Regions from separate parts of the Homo sapiens genome. Here regions 1 and 2 are each linked to region 3. Evidence: fine-mapped expression QTL. A gene starts in region 3. Each other region holds a variant in brackets. All regions are shown on one strand. Distances are from middle to middle.

The links. PIP is the estimated chance that this variant, and not a neighbour inherited with it, causes the effect.
Region 1: its variant is fine-mapped to the expression of BRAT1 in whole blood (INTERVAL, PIP above 0.99).
Region 2: its variant is fine-mapped to the expression of BRAT1 in whole blood (INTERVAL, PIP above 0.99).

The regions. Positions count from the first base shown.
Region 1 is chr7:2,530,897-2,533,737 of GRCh38, reverse strand. No RefSeq gene overlaps it. Among named protein-coding and RNA genes, the nearest start is that of MIR4648, 5.2 kb to the right of the region's middle. RefSeq lists enhancers at 1-287, 1,473-2,445, 2,840-2,841. The variant T/C (reference allele first, on the strand shown) is at 1,441.
Region 2 is chr7:2,578,241-2,580,740 of GRCh38, reverse strand. IQCE (IQ motif containing E) reads right to left here. Exons shown (of 22, transcript NM_152558.5): 7 at 2,386-2,499; 8 at 2,215-2,265. Among named protein-coding and RNA genes, the nearest start is that of IQCE, 21 kb to the right of the region's middle. The variant A/G (reference allele first, on the strand shown) is at 1,108.
Region 3 is chr7:2,554,220-2,557,060 of GRCh38, reverse strand. BRAT1 (BRCA1 associated ATM activator 1) reads left to right here and starts at 1,537. Exons shown (of 14, transcript NM_152743.4): 1 at 1,537-1,574; 2 at 2,614-2,756. The coding sequence starts at 2,630. RefSeq lists an enhancer at 953-1,630 and a silencer at 1,543-1,782.

The sequences.
Region 1 (2,841 bases), 23 kb after region 3:
TGTGCTTTGTTAAACAGATGCTTGAAGGCAGCATGCTCGTTAAGAGTCATCACCACTCCCTAATCTCAAGTACCCAGGGACACAAACACTGCGGAAGGCCGCAGGGACCTCTGCCTAGGAAAACCAGAGACCTTTGTTCACTTGTTTATCTGCTGACCTTCCCTCCACTATTGTCCTGTGACCCTGCCAAATCCCCCTCTGCGAGAAACACCCAAGAATGATCAATAAAAAAAAAAAAAATAAAAAAAAAAAGAACGAAACTCCATCTCAAAAAAAAAAAAAAAAAAAAAATCTCCCAAAGAAATACCAATAAACAAGAAAATAGTCAAATGTAAAAAAAAAAAAAAAAAAAAAAAAAAAATTTCCAAAAAGGTGACCACAGGGAGAAAAACATGAAGATAACCACCAGCTCAGACCCAGCCGGGGCTTGTGGCCATGCCCACCTGCTCCTGTGTGTCCTGGGCCTCGGGCAAGCCACTCATCCTCTCCCCACTGTTTCCAGTCTGTAAGCTGGGATTAGTGACGCTGCCTTCTCAGTTGTGGGAACCTAGAAGGCAGCAATGGGCCTCTCTCCCTAGGTTGCAACCCGGGGCTGGCACGTAGTAGGTCTGTTTCCAGCTGCCACACACGCTACCTTACCAGGGGTCCCCAAGAGACAGGACAGGGTGATGGGCCCATTTCACAGGGGGAAAAACCGAGGCAAAGAAAGGCAGTGGAGACTCGTGCTTCTGCTTCAGTAGCTCCTGCCATGGACTTGTCATGGGAACCCCCTCCCACAAGCTCTGTCCCCGGCACCCTCTGGCACTGTTAGCCAGCGGAATCCAGCTGTCACCATGGCCTGGTTCTTAGCACCCCTGGGAACTTTTAGAGCCTCTGGCCTGTGCTAACTGAGGTTGGGCAGCTGCTGGCCAGGGCCCTAGAGAGAGGGGTATCAGGTAGCTAGTGCTGAGTAACAAATAGCTCCAAACACATGACTTCACATGTCCTTAGTATTAAAGGGCCTGGTGGTACTGCTGCTCATTGCTAGGCCTGGCAAGTCCTAGCTGGGCTCACTCACACATCTGTGGGCAGCTGGGAGCTAGCTAGTCCAGGATGGCCTCAGCTAGGGTGACCCAGGCTCCATCGCCCTCTTGCCTTCCAGCAAAGCAGCCCAGCCCGTTCTCGTGCTATAGCAGGAGTCGGGGAGAGCAGGCAGAGGCACGCATGTCCCTGGAGGCTTAAGCTCAGAGCTGGGAATGTCATTGCTGTCACCTTTTATTGGCCACAGCAAGTCATAAGACAGGCTCAGATTGAAGGATGGGGAAGTAGACGCCACCTCTAGACAGGAGTTGGGGCAAAGTCACACAGCAAAGGGCGTGGTGATTCAGGGAGGAGTGGGGCATCGGGGACACGTTTGTAACTGATCTACCACAGAGGGGAGCCCCCCTTTGAGAAAGTGCT[T/C]GGTGGGCCTTGGTGCTTACGCAGCCACGGACCAACCTGCTAGATGGGGCCTTCAGTAGGGTGGCGGGACGTCAGTTTAGCCTCAGGATTCGACTCCGAGCCTCTTGCGAGACCACGTCTTGGGCAGCATCGTAGACCCGGCTGTGAGCACAGAGTGGCTCTTCCAGAAAGTTTGTTGAATGACTGACTGACCTAAGTCAGTCCCTGTGCCAGGCAGCCCAGAGGGACCAGCCCAGAGCCTCCTTCTCGGGGTGCAAGCCTGGCTTGGGATTGGGGGGTGTCTGCACTCGTGGAGCCCCCCATGCCTGCCGGGAGCCTGAAGACGCAGAGACCTCCTGCCTCGCCTCGCCCCCTCCGTGGGGACCCTCTTCCCCACACTCCTTGGTTCCTGTCGGAGCCAAGATGTGTCACCATGGAAACCGCTTGGCAAACGCTGGCAGGCAGAGGCGGCCAACAGCAGCTCTCCCGATCGAGCTCCGGGCACCGGCTGGAGCAACGTCGCGGGACGGCGTGAGCGAGCACACCCAGCCGTGTGTGACACGCGTGGGGACAGAGGCCGGGGCGGCTGCGGGAGGGCGTGCGGGGAGGTCAGGGCGCCCCGGCGTGTATGCGCCCACGTGCGCGCCTGTGCGTGTGCCAACAGTGCAGCCACATCGGAGCGCGTGTGCTCCGAGTGTGATGGCCGCGTGGGCCGGTGCAGGGTGTGTGTGGGGATGGGGGTGTCTGATTGGTGCTGTGACCTGCGGCAGCACAGCCGCCTGCGTTGAGTGCCCACGGTGGGCTGGACATTGCACTAGGTGCTGACAGGACCGGCAGAGGTGGCCACTGCCCTCGTCCCCAGCCTGCACTCCTGGGCGAAGGCTGACGCTGAACAGGTACTTGTAAGAGTCGCCGAAGTGCGTGCCGGGAGGGTTCTGGGAAGAGGCAGCTGTGGGGCCTGAAGCCTAAATGTGGGGTGGGAGGCATCCAGGCTGCGGCTCCAGGCAGAGGGCACAGCCCGGCTGTGAGCCACCACGCCTGGCCCCAAGGGCCTTCCTGTGTGTCCAATTCTGGGCTCAGAAGCAGGGGGTCACCCTGCAGAATATCTAAGAAGGCTGAGGCTGTGTGGGCACATGGACCCAGCAGGGAACAAGACTTGCCCATTGTTCTGACAGACTCGAAGATGGATCTGGCCCTGGTCCCTGCTTTCCCTCTGACCCCAGGCCCACCCGGCAAGAATGGCTGAAGTCACATAGCAGCCTGGCCCTGGCCCCTCTGAGCCTGTGGAGAGCCCTAGTTGTCTGTGATTGGGGAGGGGGGATCAAGAGACCCAACTGCATTGCCTGCCCTCCTTCCCAGGCTTCCAGTCCTCCCAGTGGATCCCACCTCTGCACCTTTGCCCAGGCTGTGCTGAGACCTGGA
Region 2 (2,500 bases), 24 kb before region 3:
TTTCTTTTTTTTTATTCTAACATTCAACAAATCCTCCTGGTGCTCTGTCCCTGCTGGCGCCTGTGAATCCACACTATTTCCCACAGTATCTCTATCCAGCCTCTATTGATAGACACTTTTTTTTTTTTGAGACAGAGTTTCACTCTTGTAGCCCAGGCTGGAGTGCAGTGGCACGATCTCAGCTCACTGCAACCTCCACCTCCCAAGTTCAAGTGATCCTTCTGCCTCAGCCTCCTGAGTAGCTGGGATTACAGGCACGCGCCATCATACCTGGCTAATTTTTTTGTATTTTTAGTACAGATGGGGCTTCACCATGTTGGCCAGGCTGGTCTTGAACTCCTGACTTCAGGTGATCCACCTGCCTCAGCCTCCCAAAGTGCTGGGATTACAGGCATGAGGAACTGTGCCCGGCAGATAGACACTTTTAAAATCTTTTTTTTTTTTTTTGGCTATGCTCTAAAATCTATCACTGTAGCCTACTGACACATACTTAAGTTGTAGCCCATTTTTGTGATTCTGGTCAATCCTCCAATCGAAATCCTTGGCCAGGCCTCCTCAGGCACATCTGCAAATGTTTCTTGAAGGCAGGTGATGACACGTAGACACGGCAGGCCACAGGGCACAGCCACACTGATGGACAATTTGCCATATGATAATGAATACTGCATATACCCTAGGATCTGGAATTCCTACTTTAAACTAACCTCAGCCAGGTGCAGTGGCTGAGGCCTGTAATCCCAACACTTTAGGAGGCCAAGGCAGAAGGATCACATGAGCCTGGGAAACTTCGCAAGACCCCATCTTACCAAAACTAAAAAAAAATTAGCTGCCTGTGGTGGCACGTGCCTGTAGTCCCGGGTACTCAGGAGGTTGAGGTGGGAGTATCCCCTAAGCCAGGGATCACGTGAGCTGAATGCTGCAGTGAGCCATGATCCTGCCACTGCACGCCAGCCTGGGCAACAGAGTGAGTCCCTGTCTCAAGAAAAAAAAAAATACCCACAGACACACACACACACACACACACACACACACACACACACCACCAGAACAACAAAAACATGGAGCCTTTTCTTTACAAAAGTACCCACTACTTACAGGCATTTGTTA[A/G]GGATTTACTTTGTGCCGTCCTAGGTGCCGAGCTAGGCTTTCACCATCTACTTTAAACATGTAATGATTATACAATCTTTCTACATTCTATATCTGTGACATAGTTCAGAGGACACGGCCTTTTTTCTTTAGAGATTTATAGTTTTTTTTGTATTTTCTAAACAGAAAACTTTGTTGTATTGATCCATAATATCCTTCTCCTCCCCCATTACAGTGATCTGGTTGCTACCTTAGTCCCATGGCTTTTTATTATGTAACTTTTAATTTTACATTATCAAATCCATTAATCACATCATTAATGTTATTTTATTCTTTGCGTTCAATAATCTCAAAATCGTATCCCTTTCGGTTTTCTTCCACCATGTCCCACTTTAGAGAAGTACTTCCTTGACTGCTAGGAGGTGTACTGTGCCACCTACAGCTGATCGCCACAGCATTACCACCGAACCGCAACATCTTCCCTGCTTCCATTTCATTCAACTTCTTACATATTGTCACATAGTATCTGAGGGGGGTCTGGATCTATCTGAAGGACGTTATTGCTGCCCTGGTTCCCTGATTTACATCTGTAGCACCTTTTTTTTTTTTTTTTGGTCACCCAGGCTGGAGTGCAGTGGCGCGATCTCAACTCACCGCAACCTCTGCCATACAGGTTCAAGCAATTCTTGTGCCTCAGCCTCCTGAGTAGCCGGGACTACAGGAGCATGCTGCCATACCCGGCTTTTTTGTATTTTTAGTAGAGACAGGGTTTCACAACGTTGGCAAGGCTGGTCTCGAACTCCTGACCTCAAGTGATCTGCCTGCCTCGGCCTCCCAAAGCGCTGGGAGCGCTTGTTAAGCTTAATGTATTTTCTCAGGTGTGAGGGGGAAGTCGCCCGTTGTGATGGGTTTTTCCTACAGTGTCTTGCTTGGCCTCTGTGGTGAGCCTGCTGGCCCCCCTCCCCGTGGTGTCCCCAGGTGTCAGTGGAGAAGGGTTTGGGGGTCCGCAGCCTCCCCCCTGCCTGCTGCTCTTCACGCGTGGGTGCTGCAGGGAAAGGCGTCCCTCTGTGGCTGTCCCCAGTAACTAGCGTCTGGGGAAAGGCTCTGTCCTGCACACACCATACTCACCCAACTGGCATCGGGCCTTTTCTCTGCCAGAGTCCGAACAAAATCCGTGCCCTGTGGTAAGCAGATTGAGACATGAAGACGGCCTTCGGTGTAGCCCCCAGCAGGGCTGGCTGGCAGATGCTGCCCCGAGGACCCTCCCCTTGCCCCGTCCGTGAAGCGCCAGGAGCTTACGCGGCTGGGATCCAGGAGCTGCTCTATCTGCCGGTCCTTCCTGCTGTTTTCCTCCTCCAGGCGCCGGAGCTTCGTTCTCATCAGGTCCACGTCGCTCTTCTGCACGTGCAATGAC
Region 3 (2,841 bases):
TGGGAGGCCTAGGTGGGCGGATCACCTAAAGTCAGGAGTTCGAGACCAGCCTGGCCAACATGGTGAAACCCCGTCTCTACTAAAAATACAAAATTAGCTGGGCGTGGTGGCCCGCACCTGTAATCCCAGCTACTCGGGAGGCTGAGGCAGGAGAATCGCTTGAACCCAGGAGGTGGAGGTTGCAGTGAGTCAAGATTGAGCCATTGCACTCCAGTCTGGGCAAAAAGAGTGACACTCCGTCTCCATAAATAAATAAATAAAATAAAGGTGACCCAGCAAAGTCAGTGCTTTTAAATTTTTAAATTTTAATATCCATAGGAATTCTGCTTTGTTTCCTAAATCTGGTGTTGGCTCCCAACAATCTTGCTATAAAACAATGCTTTGGGAACATGAGCCTTGTCTATCCACTGGCTTTGAGACTCTCGAACACACAGTTAGTGTTTTGAACTCAATTTTTTGGACCTAGTTTTTCTGCCTGTTTGCTTTCTTAAAACACAGGGTCTTGCTCTGTTGCCCAGGCTGGAGTGCCGGGGCAGGATCATAGCTCACTGCAGCCTTGAACTTCTGGGCTCAAGCGATCCTCCCGCCTCAGCCTCTGGAGTAGCTGGGACCACAGGCGCATGCTACCAGGTCTGGCTGATTTTCTTTTTTTTTTTTTGAGACGGAGTCTCGCCCTGTAGCCCAGGCTGGAGTGCAGTGGCACCATCTTGGCTCACTGCAACTTCCGCCTCCCAGGTTCAAGAGATTCTCCTGCCTCAGTCTCCCGAGTACTTGGGATTACAGGCGCGCGCCTCCACGTCCGGCTAATTTTGATATCTTAGAGATACAAAAATTAGAGACGAGACGGGATTTCGCCATGTTGGCCAGGCTGGTCTCGAACTCCTGACCTCGTGATCCGCCCGCCTGGGCCTCCCAGAGCGCTGGGATTACAGGCGTGAGCCACCACGCCTGGCCTTTTTTTTTTTTTTTTTTTTTTTTTTTAAATTTTAAGAGATGGGGTCTCGCTTTGTTGCCTAGGCTGGTCTCAACTCCTGGCTTCAAGCAATCCTCCCAACTGCGCCTCCTAAAGGGCTGGAATTACAGGCATGAGCCACAGCGCGGCCGCGGAGGACTTAATTTGAGAACCTGAAGCTAAATGACCAAGGGCTTTGGTGCACGGATCAGGACGCTTCTCTCCGGCACATAGTTTTCTCGCTCCCGCCGGTGCAGACACTGGGCGCCCTGCAGGCGAAGCCCCGCCCCTCCGGACACAACCCCGCGCCTTCCTCAGAGATCCCCGCCCTCGAGACGCCCCGCCCACCCACCGGATGCTCGGCATGAACCACTAGGCGCCTGGCGGGGGTGATCTGTCGGAGCGACCGGCTTGGCGCCTGCCTGTCCCCAGCCCCTCTCAGCTTGAACTCCTTCCTTCAAGTCTGGGCCCTCGAGGCTTCCAGAGCGGCCTCCAGGGGTGCAGTCTCAGTTCCCCACGCCAGCCGTCTCCGTCCTCCGCCTCCTCCGGGCCTGGCAGGTGGCACTGTCCGGAGGCGGAGCCTTGGGCGAGGGGTGGTTGCGGCGGAGGACGCAACCGAGCGGTGAGGCGCGTGGGCCTTCGGGGGTCGAGGTCGTGGTAGTGGGGCGCGGGGAGGCCAAGACCCGGCCGAGGGGGGCGGGCGGGCCAGGGAGCAGCCCAGCCCGGGGCGTGCGCGACCTGGGCTCGCTTCCCAGCCCGACTGTGGCCGCCTGCTCTGGCGCCCCTTCTGGACTCTCGGGCCTGGCGCTCGCGGCCAAAACTGACTTCAAAGTGTGGGGAGGGTTCCTCTTCCCGGGACGCAGCCTTCCCGGGCATTGGCAGACGGTGCCCCGGTTAGACAGAGCCGCTGACCACCCCGCCCACCCCCGAGGCTGGACGCACGGATGCACACCTGGTCCTGGGAGAGACAGGCGCCCCTTCCTTTCCGCACCCCGCCGCCCCCCTCTCCCCCCCGCCGGCTTCAGATGCAGCCACCACTAATCCTGGGAGGGACAGACACACGGACAGGTGCCCCTTCCCCTCCTCACCCTCCTACTGGCTGCAGAACAGCAAATGCAGCCACCACTGACCCTGAGAGGGACAGACACACGGACAGGCGCCCCTTCCCCTCCGCACCCCCCTGCTGGCTTCAGGACGTCAAATGCAGCCACCACTTGACGCTGGGAGGGACAGAAACTTTCCAGCCCAGGCTGGCCCTGGGGCATGGGTAGACATCCCCTTGCACACATGGCTGACCCCGGAACTCAAAGATGCCCCTGACTCTGGCCCACCTGCAGCCTGGGCCAGCACCACGCTGTTGCCCCGACTGCACCAAAGACCAAGGGTGACAGACTTTGAGTTCCGGAGGCCTTGTGGTTTCAGCTAGACCCTCATCTGCCCCTTTCAGCCCCGCCACCAGCGCTCAGGGCCCCACCTAGACCAAAGCTTTGCATCCATCCCTGCAGTACAGACCTCTGGTCTGGGGATCATGGTTCTCCTGGTCTGAGATGAAAGTTCTGGGGCCCCTTCCCAGGCCTGAGCAGGCATGGTGGGCTGCTGTGACTAGAGCGAGCTGGGTCTGGAGTGGGCATTGAGGTTTGGCTCTCACATTGCCTTTGCAGGGCCTGCGGCCTCACCATGGACCCAGAATGCGCCCAGCTGCTCCCGGCTCTCTGTGCTGTTCTGGTAGATCCCAGGCAGCCGGTGGCAGATGACACCTGTTTGGAGAAGCTCCTGGACTGGTTTAAAACGGTCACTGAAGGAGGTAAGGAGGTGGTGCTGCTGTTTACTGCCTATCCAGAGACCAGACGCAGAGGCTGGGACAGGGAGCAGGGGCCAGATGGGGACTC